Regions from separate parts of the Homo sapiens genome. Here region 2 is linked to region 1. The links come from fine-mapping of genetic effects on plasma protein levels. A gene starts in region 1. The other region holds a variant in brackets. All regions are shown on one strand. Distances are from middle to middle.

Region 1 (8,345 bases):
TCATTATATAATGATAAAGGAGCCAATTCATCAAAAAGATATAAAAATTATAAATATTTATGTACCCAACATTGGGTGCTTAAAGCAAATATTAACAGAACTAATGTGAAAAATAAACAGCAAAACAGTAACAGAGGTGACTTTAATACCCCACACTCAACAATGGATAGATAATCCAGACAGAAAATCAATAAGGAACTACCATATTTGAACAATACTTAGACCAAATGGACCTAACAGACATATACAGAACATTCCATCCAACAGCAGGGGAGTACACATTCTTCTCAAGCACATATAAAACATTCTCCAGGATAGATCACATTAAGTCACAAAATAAGTGTTAACAAATTTAAGAATATTGAAATTATATCAAGTATCTTTTCTGACCCCAATGGTATGAAACTGGAAATCAATAATGTGAGAAAAATTGGAACATTTACAAATACATGGAAATTAGATAATTCACTCCTGAACAATCAAGGAGCCAAAGAGGAAATTAATGAGGAAGTAAAAAGTATCTTGAGACAAATGAAAAGGTAAACTCAATATCTGAAAACATATAGGATACAGCAAAAGCAGTACTGAGAGGAAAATTCATAGTTATAAATGTCTAGATTAAGGAAAAATAAAGATTTCAAATGAACAAACTAAGTTTAAACATTAAGGAACTAGAAAAAGAATAATCTAAACCCAAAGTTATCAGAAAGAAGGAAACAACAAAGATCAAAGCAGAAACAAATAAAATAGAGAATAGAAAAACAATGGAAAAGATCAACAAAACTAAAAGTTGGTTTTCGGAAAAGATAAAAAAAAATCGACAAACCTTTAGCTAGACTAACCAAGAAAAAAGAGAGAAAACTCAAATAAGTAAAATTATAAATGAAAGAAGTGAAGACATTACAACTGCTATCACAGAAATACAAAGAATCATAAGAGACTACTATGAACAATTATATGCCAGCAAATGGGATAACCTAGAAGAAATGCATAAATTCCTAGAAACACACAATGTGCCAACAATGAATCATGAAGACATAGAAAATCTGAACAGACCAAAAATATAAATAAGGGGACTGAATCAGCAATCAAAAACCTCCCTACAAAGAAAAGCCTAGGACCAGATGTTTCACTGGTGAATTCAACCAAATACCTAAAGAAGAATTAATGGCAATTCCTCACAAACTGTCCCAAAATATTGTAGAAAGAATATTTCCAAACTCATTTTACAAGATGAGTATTACCCTAATACCAAAGCCAGATAAGGACACTACCAAAAAAAAAAAAAAAATCACAGGCCAATACCCATAATAAACATAGATGCAAAAATCCTCAACAAAATACTAGCAAACCAAATTCAACAGCACATTAAAAAAAAAGCAAAAAAAAAAAAATCAATCAAAAAAATTTAGCATCCTTTCATGATAAAAAAAAACTCTCAACAAATTGGGTATAGAAGAATTCTACTACTGAGCCATTAAAAGGAATGAAATAATGTTAATAATAAGTGAGAAAATATTTTTTTTGGTTTTCTACTCCTGTGTTGCTTAGAATAATTGCCTCCAGCTCCATCCAAGTTGCTGTGGAATATTTGAGAAAATATTTGCGAACCTATATCTGAAAATAGATTAATATCCAAAATATGTAAGAACCATGCAATTCAATAGCAAAATGAAAACAAAAACAAAACAAATAACCTGATTTTAAAATGGGCTAAGGACCTCAACATTTTCCAAAGAAGACATAAAAATGGCAAACAGGCATGAGAAAACATGCACAATATCACTAATCATCAGAGAAATTCAAATCAGAATAATCACATCACCTTATACCTGTTAGGGTGACTATTATCAAAAAGACAAAAGATAACAAAGTATGGATGAGGATGTAGAGAAAAGAGAATCCTTTGTGTTTGCAGAATGTAAATTTGCACAACCATTATGGAAGACAGTGTGGTGGTTCTTCAAAAAATTATAAATGGAACTGCAATATGATCCAACAATCTTAATTCTGGGTACATATCCAAAGGAAGCAAAAGCAGTGTTTCAAAGAAATATATGTACTCCCGAATGGGCACGGTGGCTCACGCCTGTAATCGCAGCACTTTGGGAGGCTGAGGTGGGTGGATCACCTGAGGTCAGGAGTTTAAGACCAGCCTGATCAACATGTTGAAACCCTGTCTCTACTAAAAAAAAATAGAAAAGTTAGCCGGTGTGGTGGCAGATACCTGTAATCCCAGCTACTCTGGAGGCTGAGGCAGGAAAATCACTTGGACCCGGGAGGTGGAGTTTCCAGTGAGCTGAGATTGCACCATTGCACTCCAGCTTGGGCGACAAGAGAGAAACTCTGTCTCAAAAACAAACAAACAAACAAACAAACAAACAAAAATATATATTATATAAAATATGTACTCCCATGTTCATTGCAGCATTATTCACAATATCAAAGACATAGAAACAACCTACATATCTGTTGATGGATGAAGGGATAAAAATTGTGATTTATATACACACACACATATATGTGTGTGTGTGTATATATATATTTATATTTATATAATAGAATAGTATTCAGCCATAAAAAAGAAGGAAATAGTGCCCTTTGAGACAGCATGGATGAACCTGAAGAATATCATGCTAAATGAAATAAGTCACAGACAAATACTATGATCTCATTTATATGTAGATTCTAAAAATTATCAAATACATGGAAACAGAGAGTAGAATGGTGGTTTCCACATAAGTTTTATATAAATATGTGAGAGAGAGAAAGAGATTTATTCCAAGGAGTTGATTCATGCCCTTATGGAGGCTAAGAAGTCCCACAGTCTACTGTCTGCATGCAGTAAAAGTCAGTGGAGTGATTCAGGCCAAACTGAAAGCCCAAGAACCAGGGGAGCCGATGGTGTAAATCTCAGTTTGAGGGCTGGAGAAGATAAGATGTCCTAGCTCAAACAGGCTGGCAGGAAGCAAAAAAAGGGTGAATTCCCCCTTCCTTCACCATTTTATTCTATTCAGGGTCTCAATAGATTGATTGATGCACACCTACATTGGAGACGGCATTCTACTTTCCAGAGTCCACCAATTAAAATGCTAATCCTATCTGGAAACACCCTCACAGATACATCGAGAAATAGTGTTTAATCTGGGCACTCAGGTGCCAGTCAAGTTGACACAGAAAATTAACCATCACAGAGGTACAATGCAAATAGTGGCTCATTAAGTCATGACATCCTTAGCTAGGCTGACAGTATTCTCTAATAGTTCTCAGAAGAACTGTGATAGGCAACACTTCTCACATGTAGCAACTGCCCTGGCAGGGCAGAAATTCACATTTGATGTATAGCTCTCTGGTTTTCCTCCTTGGTTAGGAAACTCTCATGGAATCTATCTTAGGAGAAAAATCATAGTTTGGAAACCACTATGCCAAAGATCCCCTCATGTGCTGGGTTCTCCAATACTGCCTGCTTCAATTTCAGACTTACAACTTTTACTTCCGTTTTTAAATTTTTTTATTTCAATTTTTGTAGGTACATAGTAGGTGTATATATTTATGGGGCTCATGAAATGTTTTGATACAGGCATGCAATGCGTAATAATCACATCATAGAGAAGGGGGTATTCATCCTGTCAAGCATTTATCCTTTACGTTACAAACAATCCAGTTATACTATTAGTTATTTAAAATGTACAATTAAATTATTATTGACTATAGTCACCCTGTTATGCTACCAATAGTAGGTCTTATTCATTCTTTCCAATATTTTGTACCCATTAACCCTCCGCATCTCCTTCCCACCACTAGCCTTCCCAGCCCCCAGTAACCATCTTTTCATTCTCTATCTCTATGAATTCAATTGTTTTGATTTTTAGATCCCACAAATAAGTGAGAACATGCAATGTATGTCTTTCTGTGCCTGGCTTATTTCACTTAACATAATTATCTCCAGTTCCATCCATTTTGTCACAACTGACAGGATTTCATTCTTTTATATGGCTGAATAGTACTCCATTGTGTATATGTACATTTGCTGTGTTCATTTATCTGTTGATAGACACTTAGCTTGCTTCCAAATCTTGGTTATTGTAAACAGTGCTGCAACAAACATGGGAGTGCAGATATCTCTTCAATATACTGGTCTTCTTTCTTTTGGGTATATAGCCAGCAGTGGGATTGCTGGATCATATGGTAGCTCTATGTTTAGTTTTTTGAGGAAGCTCCAAACTGTTCTCCATAGTGATTGTACTAATTTACATTCCCACCAACAGTGTACAAGGCTTCCCTTTTCTCTACATCCGTGCCAGCATTTGTTATTGCCTGTGTTTTGAATAAAGCCATTTTTAGCTGAGATGAGAGGATATCTCATTGTAGCTTTGATTTCCATTTATCTGATGATCAATGATGTTAAGCACCTTTTCAAGCACTTTTTCATATGCCTGCTTCCCATTTGGATGTCTTCTTTTACTTCCATTTTTATATGTTGTATGTGTTTGCATGATCAAATCTACTTTATCAGGAAACATAAAACATAAAGTGAAACGGAAAAAAAAGGAAAGATTATAGGAAACAGTCATTTGCCTAATATATCTTCACTGCACGGAAGGCAAATAATAGATATGAAACCCGAAGGTTTAGGACAGGAGACAAAGGAAAGTTATTGCCTTATTCTCCCTAACCACATCCTTCAAGTCTTCTTCCTTATTTATTACATCACATGGACAAATACACTTGACCACACCTCCTGACATTGCTCAATATTTGCTTGAGTGAAAAGAGGCTGAGGCAACCTGAAGGAGGAGCTCTCATTACCTTCTGCCCATCACTTAATAAATAGCCAGCCAATTCATCAACATTCTGGTACACTGTTGGAGAGATGAGACAGTCACACCAGCTGCCCCTAGTGGGGCTCTTACTGTTTTCTTTTATTCCAAGCCAACTATGCGAGATTTGTGGTGAGTAAACTTTGAGCTAAAATTACTCTAGAGTGATAGTCTACTGAAAACTGTTGACAAGAGACTCTATGTAGAGTTACCTGAGAAAAGATCCCATTCCAGTTTCGTATGTGGTTGGACTCCATGAATGATGAAAAGGGTGGCAGGAGATGGTGAGGAAAGTCTCACAATGCATGTTGTTGTAAGAGGAATTATAGATTGTGTATTCACTTGCCTAACTGCTCTTTCTATGCTCAGATCCTCTCTAGCACAGCATCCCTACCAAGTAACTCCCTATTCATGTGACTTTTCAATGACAGAAAATTTATGCTCCCAGAAACTTTTCTAGATCATGGAAAGTTATCTTTTGGTCTTGATATGCAATCTTTTTTCCCTGAAATTCAATGCATGATTTTTGGGTTAACCCCTTGTAACTACATAGAAAAAAATAATAATCTCTTTCAAATAGTGATGACTGCTGTCTTGTCATGAGTGAGTTTAGATGTTCCAAGTTGCATGTCCACCTTCCTTCAACTCTTTCCCAGGACACATGGGATAAAGTTCCATCATCTCTTGCATGGGTGTTGACCCCAGAGATTGTGTGGTTCTGTAAAAGAACTTTAAAGTAAGAGAAGGGAAAACTAAATTCAGGTTTAGTTTGATCCCTTAGTTATTGAATGACCCAACATTTCTGAATTTCTTTAGCTTCATTCATAAATAAAGGATAATGAGGGGAGACTATTGAAGCAAATTATCTCATGAAGTCTGGTGCAGTTCTCAAGTGCATGAATTCTCTTTTGTGAGACTTTACTCTGAAATTGAGCTTCAAACCAGTCCAAAGATTACTAGGTGGTACTATCTGTGCTCTCTAACCAGTAAGAAGAGAACACCACAGAAGACAGGCTTGTATACATACAGGCTAAAGCATAGACTCTTCTGACTCTGATTTTTCTTCTTGGCTTGACATTTCCCCTGTTGGATCCTAAGAATAGGGAATGGCTATGTAGGTTTTAGCTTTCAATTCATTTTAAATAATAATGATAATAATTAAATTTATCTTTGAGACTCAAGGAAGCTGATTTGAGTTGTTGATCAGGAACTAAAAAGTCTGTTTCAGGGCCAGAAAATCTGCTGAGCTGGATGGTTCCACAAAATCTCAGAGAACTGACTCACAATTGTTCCATTGTGTCTGCAACAAACCATGACCTTTCTACAATCACTCTATTCAGATCTTCTTGACTCATTCTTTTAAAGTAAAGAAAACTGGGCAAGAGAAATTACATTTCCTTGATTCTCAAGTATAGTGATAAAAACTCCAGTTGAGCTGGAAATAATAGTATGTGCAGCATTTTACAGTTTATTCGGTGGTTTCTTGTCCAATATCTGTAAGGTAAGTGTTAACAGCCACAATTTTTAAATGAGAAAACTAAGAGTAAAACAAGTTACATAAGTTATTATCCACAGTCATAAGTTAAGGAGCACAAAATGTGGCCAAAATCTGAATCCAAACCTCATGTTCTTCTCACTCTCCCACTAATCCATTAGATAATCTGGAGATATGTAGGATTTGGGGCTACTCCTCAAGATTATGGAAAAATACATTGACAAAGTGTCCTGTGTTTAAATAAATAGTAAATCTTTTTATTCTCCTCTATTTCCTTGGGAGCTATGGATTTTCCTACTTCCACAGTATAATGTGACTTCCCTCCATCTCTGGAATTGGGGCATATTGTAGGCTAAAACTGGAGAGTTTTTTACAGGCTGCATAATGCTAAATAATGATCTCGATGCCCAGCCAGCTGGGTAATCAGACAATGAAGTTTTGGGGTCAATCACCAGTATAACACAGAATTATTACCTGCATTTTCTCAACATTAACCCAGTTGATTTAGAAGATGGAGAAGGAAAGAACTGAATCCAGGAAGTAGAAAGTCCTGCTTACTGAGAGTCAGAAGACATGTAGTCTAGTTTCAGCTCAGCCTCCAATTATGGAAGTTTCTTTAAGGACAATCTATCTAAGCTTCATATACAAAATTAGGGAATGATGCTAGATTTCCCAGGCAGGAGTCTGCCAGTACACAATGATAAGTCTGCACCAGTTGTTAAAATATTAAAACATTTTCATGTTGGTTGTTAAAGGAGTAATGTCTGGCATGGGGGTGGGTTCAAGACCCACCTTTGTATTATTCCACCAACACAGTCTGCAGCCACTGGATTGGTCTAGGTCTGTGCCATATCTGTTACTAAATATTTTTATATAACCCCTGCTGCAAGTCTTACTATTTTCTGAGTATGTGTTTCTTATTTCCTTCCTTCTCTGCCACAGAGGTAAGTGAAGAAAACTACATCCGCCTAAAACCTCTGTTGAATACAATGATCCAGTCAAACTATAACAGGGGAACCAGCGCTGTCAATGTTGTGTTGTCCCTCAAACTTGTTGGAATCCAGATCCAAACCCTGATGCAAAAGATGATCCAACAAATCAAATACAATGTGAAAAGCAGATGTAAGTTGCTGTATATTCTGGAAGATTTAGAAAAAAATCTACCTATTTAAAGATTATCTGCAACTAATCCTAAAAAATTATGCATCCAAAGTATCCCTGCTACATCCCTTCTAATGGTACCAAACTTGAGGTAACAGAAACATGCCCAAAATACAATCCCATGCCATTCACCCTAGAGCTAGGTCTTGCTTCTTTTGGTCTTAAAAACCACTTTTCTTCAAGAAGCCACAAACAAAAGCTATGGATTTTTATCCATTAATGCTGTTATATAAGCTAGCTTAGTTCACAACCACATGGGAATACAGATCATAACTAAGAAAGCTGGTGATGGAAAGGCAACCATGGAACAACCCAGATTTGAACTAGGTATGGGTGGGCCTTGAACCAGTCATGTTAATACTGAGCCTCAGTTTTCTAATTAGTATAAGGGGAAAAGAAGCCACTCTTACCTACCTCATAATATTATTATAAGAATTATGAGAATCCTGAGAGTTTGGATACTCTAAAAGGCAGAACATTAAAAATCAAGAATTACTATCCTAGCAAGCTGGTACCACAAAGAAAAAAAAACCCAAGATCTTGTTGTTTATCTATTTTTCCTCTTTTTCACTTTCATAAGGATTGTATGATTCCAAAACGATTCTGTGATTTTTATGGAAAAGACAAAGATTTAGTTTGCATTTATACAGTACTGCTCTAAAAGGCTCTGCTTTGAGGATAAAGAAGAGAGGAATCAAATATTCATACAGGAATGCATCACATAATGATGAATATATATGACGGTGGTCCCACAAGATTTTAATAGTGTATTTTTATTGTACCTTTTCTGTGCTTGGATATGTTTAGATACACAAATACTATTGGGCTACAATTGCCTATAGTATTCAGGACAGTAACATGCTATACTG
Region 2 (8,345 bases), 14 kb after region 1:
CCTACAGGTGATACAAATTCACAGTAGGATCAAGAGCTAATTGCCTACAACACATTGTTGGGTATTTTTAAATATTAATAACATTTAATTTATTGTTATGTATGTGAATAACATTTATTGACGTGTCTTAAGAGGAAATGTACTATGACCAGTTTTTCTTTTTTCTTAATATCCCACAAATGCTTGTGGACAACTTGGTTAGCTTAAGAACCTCCAAGAAAAGATGAAAACAGGAACTGTCCATCCCTGGGAAACTACAGAGCAGCATGTTCAAGTCCGACCCACCTTAGTTCCTGTCTTGCTTACCCCAATGCCCTCCTAACTTTTACTACCTCACAATTCTGCCCCTTCAATCAAGCTTACATTCTGCTGCCAGGAGAGTTTCTGTTTAATGAACAATTAGACTCCCCATTGTCAATCAAATAATGTCAGACACCTCCTCATCGTTGTCAATCAAATGAGGTCAGACATCTCATCATAAAATTCAAGCATCTACTAGTCTAGCCCAACTTCCTTCTCCAGCCTGTTTTTCCACAGTTGCCTCCAATGTTCCCCATACATCAGTTCTCCTAAACCAGGAGGAATCCCCTGAGGAACTTTGCTAAAATGCAGATACTGTCATCATTGCCAGGTCATGTCCTGGCCATTCCTACCTAACACCTTTGTTCATGTTGTTCCTCTTGAGTGCTCTATCCTACTCTCCAAGGCCTAACTCAAATACCACCTTCTCCAGGAAGCTTTTTTTTTTTTAGCTTCATTAAATGTTTGTGAGCTCCTCTCCTCTTTTGAAAGAGGCATCCCACTAGATGCATCCCTTAGGGCATTCCTCTGGCAACTCCTTTTACAGTAGTTTGTTAATATTTATTGAGTGTCTCCTATATGACAGGTATTTCCCAGCACTGGGATACAGAAATGAATGTGGCAAAGTCTGCCTTCATTGGAACTATTATAGCTTGTGTTATTAAGCAGTTCCAACCTCCCTGCCCAAACTAGTTTATAAGCTTCTGGATAACAAGAAAGATAACTGAGTTATCTGAGGTGCTTCCTAGGTAGTCAATGTTCAATTAATACTGAATTAGTTACATATATAGTTATAGATAAGGCTTCCCCCTTATTTGAAGTGTCTCATATTCTCTCTCTGTCTCTCTTTATCTCTCATCACCCCCCCACCCCACCCTGCCTCATTAGGCCCTCTTTGTATCATCAGACTATTATAATGAAAATGACTGGAATTGCCAACAAACTCTGAATACAGTGCTCACGGAAATTTCTCAAGGAGCATTCAGCAATCCAAACGCTGCAGCCCAGGTCTTACCTGCCCTGATGGGAAAGACCTTCTTGGATATTAACAAAGACTCTTCTTGCGTCTCTGCTTCAGGTATAAGCATTAAAGAGAGCACACTGTTTCGCTTTTCACCATAGCACCCAAAGCATGTGAGATTCAGGTGTCCTTTGAAACCAAAAGTGACCAGATAAACCTCCAAAACATAACAGTTGCCAGAGAGAATTCAGTTTTCCTCATGTTACCAGGGTTTACAGTCACCTGAGGATTTGTTCTTAACTGAGTGCTAGATGTCCCTCTTAGTTCAAACATTAACAAGGCAGACCTGATTAAATAATGTCTATCTCCAAAGGTGTATTTTCTGACTGTTGGATATAGAAGGATCTGAGCATCATTCTCATCCTAAATAAAGTATGGAGTATTGGTACCGTGACTCTGACTTTGCACAGTGAGTGATCCCTTAGGGAAATGAGACATCTGTGTGGAAGTGATATGCCAGTATTCAAAAATTGTAGCATGCATTACTTATTCAAAAAATGACCTTGCAACCAGGTAGAAGGAAAGGAGACATTGTCTTATATCTCTGTCCATTCCTGGTTCAGCCACTCACAGGTTTAGGAAACTTGGACAAAATGTTTAACCTCTAAGCTTCAGTTTTCTAATGTAAAAGTTGGGAACAAGGACAGTACCTAACATAGGTTTTTGTAAAGATTGAATGAGACAATCCATGTAAAATGATTAGTATAGTGCCTGGCAATTCATATGTTTTCAATAAACGTTAAGCAATAAAAAGGAGAAAAGACAAGCATTATTGTATGCTGTACCAAGGCAAAAAAAGAAAAAAAAAATCAGGATCCTCTGTGAGAAACAGAAGTTAGAGCAACTGAATTGCTTAAACAGCTGGGAGTTGAGCCAAGTGCCAACATTCACAAGCTGGTGAGTTTGGGTCTTAGTTTCTGCTTTAGTTATATGAGAAATTTGCCCCTTGAGTGATGATAATTGCTCCTTATAGTAAATCCGTGTCTGCATAAAGGCAAGGAGTCCTTGGATAGGGGTTGAGTAGGTCTGCAAACTCTAATATCATTTTTATTTTTCTGAATATTGCTCTGGGCTTTTCTGTCTCTGCCAGGTAACTTCAACATCTCCGCTGATGAGCCTATAACTGTGACACCTCCTGACTCACAATCATATATCTCCGTCAATTACTCTGTGAGAATCAATGAAACATATTTCACCAATGTCACTGTGCTAAATGGTTCTGTCTTCCTCAGTGTGATGGAGAAAGCCCAGAAAATGAATGATACTATATTTGGGTAGGTCTGTACCTAACCTAAGGTTAAGATGTTTGCTGTCATTTCTAAAGATGCAGTAAGAATGCATTTGCACCTAAATACAAAGTATATTTAAAATGCTTCTGGGTCAGTAGCTTTGCTGTCCATCTACATCTCACAGCAGGAGTTTAAAATAGGAGGTGAGGTATTTCATCTTCTTGCACATAATAGGTAGTAAATTAATGTTCGCTAAATAAATTAATGAATCTCAGGGCTCTCTCTTATTTCAGTAAAATTCTTGCAATAAATGTAACTTCTAAAGTCAAACATTTGAGATCTAGAACAGTGGTTCTTAACTCTTTTTGAATCACGGACCCCTTTGAAAATCAAGTGAATGTAATGAATGTTCATCCAGGAAAAAAATGAACATACACACAAAAATTGGCATTTGTTTATTTATTTATTTTACAGACAGCATCTTACTATGTTGCACAGGCTGGTCTTGAATTCCTGGGCTCAAGAGATCTGCCCACCTCAGCCTCCCAAAGTGCTGGGATTACAGGCATGAGCCACTGCCAAATTTAGCATTTCAACTGAGGGTTTCACAGATACCCTGAAGCTTCTCCCTGCCCTCGCTTTCAGAAAACTCATAGATCCCCAAACTAAAGTAACTGGTCAAGGAGGTCAAGTATTAAAATTAAAATAATGGCTTTGCCTCTGAAAAGTATGACTTATTTGGCTCCTTAACTCTAGTTGACAGTTATTTATCATATCTAACAACACAGTGTAGGATGCTATAAAGAAAATCAGAATAATAATATAATATACATTATAAAGGCTACCCTCAAGGGCTTTAAGGGAGGTAGAAAAATGACTACGGAATATAAAACAGATACTGACCTGTCACTTTTTAATAAACACAATATGAAATATCAAATTATCCTTTCCTGTTCCTCTTTTCTAAGGGAAAACTCAGTAACTTATGGTGTCTCTAGCACATGAGGATCATATGTTCTTCTACTGAATCAGTATCTTTAGCAGTTACTATCTTGGGGTGGAAGGTTGAAGCTGTTATCTGAAACCTATCTACCATGGCAGGTGGGGAGAGCAGAAACCATGAGCATCATTTCTCTAATTTAGCATGGAGTGTGGAGTGCCTGCATTAGAATCAGCTGGAGTGTTTATAAAGCATGCAGATTCCTGATCCCCAGCTCATATCTAAAAATAAAAATATCTATGGATAGGGCCAGGAAATCTGCATTTTTATAATGTCATCAAGTGATTCTCAGGTACATTAAAGTTTGAGAAATGCCTATTGTTGGTTTCCTTTGACAATTCTAAGTTCCAGTAACCTACTTGCTGTCACCCACAGTTTCACAATGGAGGAGCGCTCATGGGGGCCCTATATCACCTGTATTCAGGGCCTATGTGCCAACAATAATGACAGAACCTACTGGGAACTTCTGAGTGGAGGCGAACCACTGAGCCAAGGTAAGGGAGAGACATGCCAAAAAGACCCATGCTAAAAATGCCCAAATGGAGAGGGGTGTGAGCCTCTGTGGGGATTGGGCCAAGGGGTTAGTAGAGATGACATCCATTATTTGGTGATTTAGTGGCCAAATCATTTGACCCAGTTCTCTTTCTTCTTCCTTTTCAGGAGCTGGTAGTTACGTTGTCCGCAATGGAGAAAACTTGGAGGTTCGCTGGAGCAAATACTAATAAGCCCAAACTTTCCTCAGCTGCATAAAATCCATTTGCAGTGGAGTTCCATGTTTATTGTCCTTATGCCTTCTTCTTCATTTATCCCAGTACGAGCAGGAGAGTTAA[T/C]AACCTCCCCTTCTCTCTCTACATGTTCAATAAAAGTTGTTGAAAGATTAACAACTATACAAAAAGAGCATGTTCTAATTAGTTCATTCTGAAAGGATTTTAAAATGTATTAGAGGAAAGTCCACCTAAGGAAAAACTGAAGTGAAAAGAAATGAGACCACATGTCTAATAAGCGGGGTTCTACTCAAGGTTCTCCTACTAACTATCTCAGTGGCATTGGGCAACTGGGTAAAATGGGGATAAGGTTCTAGGTCTAATGTTGCAGCAACAACCAATGAGATCAAGCAGAAAGTCTGTGAAAGACTGAGCTCTCTGAGGCCCAGATGCAAGAGAGGAGCCCATTGGTCACACTGATTTCATACAGGTAGTGGGTAAAAAAAACATGTTGCTCAGAAGAAAGGGGGAAACGTGAGGCATATACATAAAAGGTCTGCCCGTAGTTTGAGAAACAATCTCATCCCCTGCCTCCAGATGTCTCCCTTGGGTCCCACTTATTCTTCTCTTACATTTATTTTCCCTTTATTTCCCCATAAAATCACCCCAATATTCATGTCATCAAAATACATATGCAAAAAAGTCACTTATCATGTTCATTTCCACAGAATTCACTTTTTTCCTTTTTTATTTTTCTAATCAATTTTTGTCATGCTAAGAAGTCACGTCTTAAAGGAAAAAAGTTGAATCACATCAAGGCAGCATGAGCTTGTACTTATACTGAGTACCTGGGCTACATGCAGTACAGTCAGAAACTAGAAGGACACTTAAGATACCAAAGGACAAAAGGTACTTTATGTAAAGTGTAAAGTAACCCATTTAAAGTAATTTCCTGCAAATAAAAACCACAATGAGACACCATGCCACACCAGTCACAATGGCTACTATTAAAAAGTCAGAAAATAACAGATGCTAGTGAGGTTATGGAGAAAAAGAAACACATACACTGTTGGTAGGAGTGTAAATTAGTTCAACCACTGGGGAAAGCAGTGTGGAGATTGCTCAAAGAGCTAAAAACAGAACTACCATTCAACCCAGCAATCTCATTACTGGGTATATACCCAAAGGACTATAAATCATTCTACATCTAAATCTAATATAAACCGCGTGTATGTGTATTGCAGCACTATTCACAATAGCAAAAATATGGAATCAACCTAAATGTCCATCAATGATAGACTTTTAAAGAAAACACAGTACATATACACTATGGAATACTATGCAGCCATAAAAAATGAGATCATATCCTTTGCAGGAACATGGATGGAGCCAGAGGCCATTATCCTTAGCAAACTAACACAGGAAACTGCATATTCTCACTTATAAGTGGGAACTAAATGATGAGAACACATGGACACATAGAGGGGAACAACACACACTGGGGCCTATGAGAGGGTGGAGGGTGGCGAGGAGGGCGAAGATCAGGAAAAATAACGAATGGATACTAGGCTTAATGCCTGGGTGATGAAATAATCTGTAAAACAAACCCCCATGTCATGGGTTTACCTACACAACAAACCTGCACATGTATACCTGAACTTAAAGTTTAAAATAAAGTAATTTTTAAAAGAAAAATGCCTTCAGGTAGAATTAGTTGAATTATTATTTATTTTATTATTTTTTTTAGACAGAGTTTCGCTCTTGTTGCCCAGGCTGGAGTGCAATGGTGTGATCTCGGCTCATCGCAACCTCCGCCTCCTGGGTTCAAGTGATTCTCCTGCCTTGGCCTCCTGAGTAGCTGGGATTACAGGCATGCACCACCATGCCCAGCTAATTTTGTATTTTTAGTAGAGGTGGGGTTTCTCCATGTTGGCCAGGCTGGTCTCGAACTCTTAACCTCAGGTGATCCACCCACCTTGGCCTCCTAAAGCACTGGGATTACAGGCGTGAGCCACCACGCCCAGCCAGGTGAATTATTTTAACAATGTCTTCCTCATTTCTCCTGTGTTTTCTTCACAATCATCCTAGCTTCCTCTCCTTCACCAGTGACACTGCTTCACAGTCAGAGATTGAACCCTCTTCCAACATACTGCTTTCTGCTATTGATACTCGATGCTCAGGTTCAACTCTGCCCTGGTCTTCATTAACTGGATGTAACACATGACCCTCATGAGTGGACAGAAATGGATTCTATCCCTTGGGTCTGTGTCTCATCTTTAAAGCTAAGTTAGAAAATATATACACCTACTGTGTACCCACAAAAATTAAAAATATAATAACAATAATAATAATAATAATAATAAAGCTAAATTAGAGAAGCTGGGAGCCATGTTACCCTTCCAGGATCCCTGGTGCTGTTAATCGTCAGATCTGTTTGTAGCCTATACAAGCTATGTGAAATTGAAGGATACTGGTTTAAGGTGAGAAATATGCAAAATGTCAGAATTGCATACTAGCAATTAGCACTACTAGCATTTATTTCTAACAGACAGAGCCTAGTTTCTCCCAGCCAGAGGTCTTAAAGTATAATGTAGGCCGGACGCAGTGGCTCACGCCTGTAATCCCAGCACATTGGGAGGCTGAGGCAGGTGGATCACTAGGTCAGGAGATCGAGACTATCCTGGCCAACATGGTGAAACCCCGTCTCTACTAAAAATGCAAAAATTAGCAAGGTGTGGTGGCATGCGCCTGTAGTGCCAACTACTCGGGAGGCTAAGGCAGGAGAATCGCTTGAATCTGGGAGGCGGAGGCTGCAGTGAGCCGAGAATGCGCCACTGCACTCCAGCCTGGGAAACAGAGCTAGACTCTGTCTCAAAAAAAAAAAAAGTATAATGTAGTAAGTAACATTGCTGTCTGATATAAATGCCTTTAATCTCAGAAGTAGACATGAAATAACACTCCCTTAGGGTTCCACTAACATCGGCCCTTGAAACCTAGTTCTGAGGACAGGCGTGGTGGCTCATGCCTGTAATCCCAGTACTTTGGGAGGCCAAGGCAGGCAGATAACTGAGGTTAAGAGTTTGAGACCAGCCTGGCCAACATGGCGAAACCCCACCTCTACTAAAAATACAAAAATTAGCTGGGCATATTGGCAGGCAATTGTAATCCCAGCTACTCAGGAGGCTGAGGCAGGAGAATCACTTGAACCCGGGAGGCAGAGGTTGCAGTGAGCTGAGATCACACCATTGTACCCCAGCCTGGGCAACACAGCCAGACTCCATCTCAGAAAAACATAAAAATAAAAATAAAAATAAGAAACCTAATTGGCCACACTTGCCTTACAAGAAGCTCCTACAGCTTGAGACTATTACAGAACCTGAACTGAGTCTGAAGAGAGAAACTTCCTTTTGCTGCCACAGCAAAGAATAATCACCACAAATAAACCTCACTTATGTCCAGAGAGAGTCTAGGTGCTTTGATACCAAAATATTAGGCACAGGAGAAACAAGGAAATAAATGAACACATCATCCCAGTCAATAGTTAACCAAGGACTGTCAAAATATCCCTGTTAAGAAATGTATGGCCTGTGTGGTTCCTGTTCTGGGAATTATTTACTAACTGCAACAATTGTGTCACGATCAATCTTGCAGCAGCCCTGGTTGTAAATGGTAATTTATAATACAAGGAAGTGAGTGGTTAAAGAGCTGGCAGGCCAAGGGTGTGTGGATCATCTCAGGACGATCAGGAGCAGGCTCTGGAATGCAAAGTCAGCACCATACTGTACTCATAATCCTGTATTAGATTCTTATTGTTGCTGTAACAGATTACCACTAATTTTGTTATTTAAGACAAATTTATCATCTCACAGTTCTGGAAGTCAGAGTCTCACTGGGCTAAAATCAAGGTGTCGAAGGAGCTGTGTTCCTTCTAGAGGTGGCAGCAGTAAACCAAGTTCTTTCCCTACTTTGTATGGGTCACAAAGAAGGAACATGCAATTGGACAAAAGCAATTGGGTCGTATTCACTGGCCAGGGAATGGAGAAGGGGAGCTCTCGCTCTAAAGGCGCATTCTCCTTAAGCAATGGGAAGCA

Alleles and levels. Positions count from the first base shown, and alleles are read on the strand shown. Strength reflects both the effect of a copy and how common the allele is.
For the plasma level of the protein whose gene starts at base 4,857 in region 1, allele C in region 2 goes with a lower level than allele T (moderate association).

Evidence for each region. PIP is the posterior inclusion probability: the model's chance that the variant is causal. The UK Biobank Pharma Proteomics Project read protein levels with antibody pairs (Olink). The fine-mapping took linkage between variants from a reference panel, not from the people measured, so its PIPs are less certain.
Region 2: its variant is fine-mapped to the plasma level of the TCN1 protein (UK Biobank, PIP above 0.99).

The regions. Positions count from the first base shown.
Region 1 is chr11:59,862,999-59,871,343 of GRCh38, reverse strand. TCN1 (transcobalamin 1) reads left to right here and starts at 4,857. Exons shown (of 9, transcript NM_001062.4): 1 at 4,857-4,952; 2 at 7,258-7,437. The coding sequence starts at 4,874.
Region 2 is chr11:59,848,902-59,857,246 of GRCh38, reverse strand. TCN1 (transcobalamin 1) reads left to right here. Exons shown (of 9, transcript NM_001062.4): 6 at 1,189-1,378; 7 at 2,412-2,595; 8 at 3,926-4,044; 9 at 4,211-4,439. The coding sequence ends at 4,272. Among named protein-coding and RNA genes, the nearest start is that of CBLIF, 7.6 kb to the right of the region's middle. The variant T/C (reference allele first, on the strand shown) is at 4,381.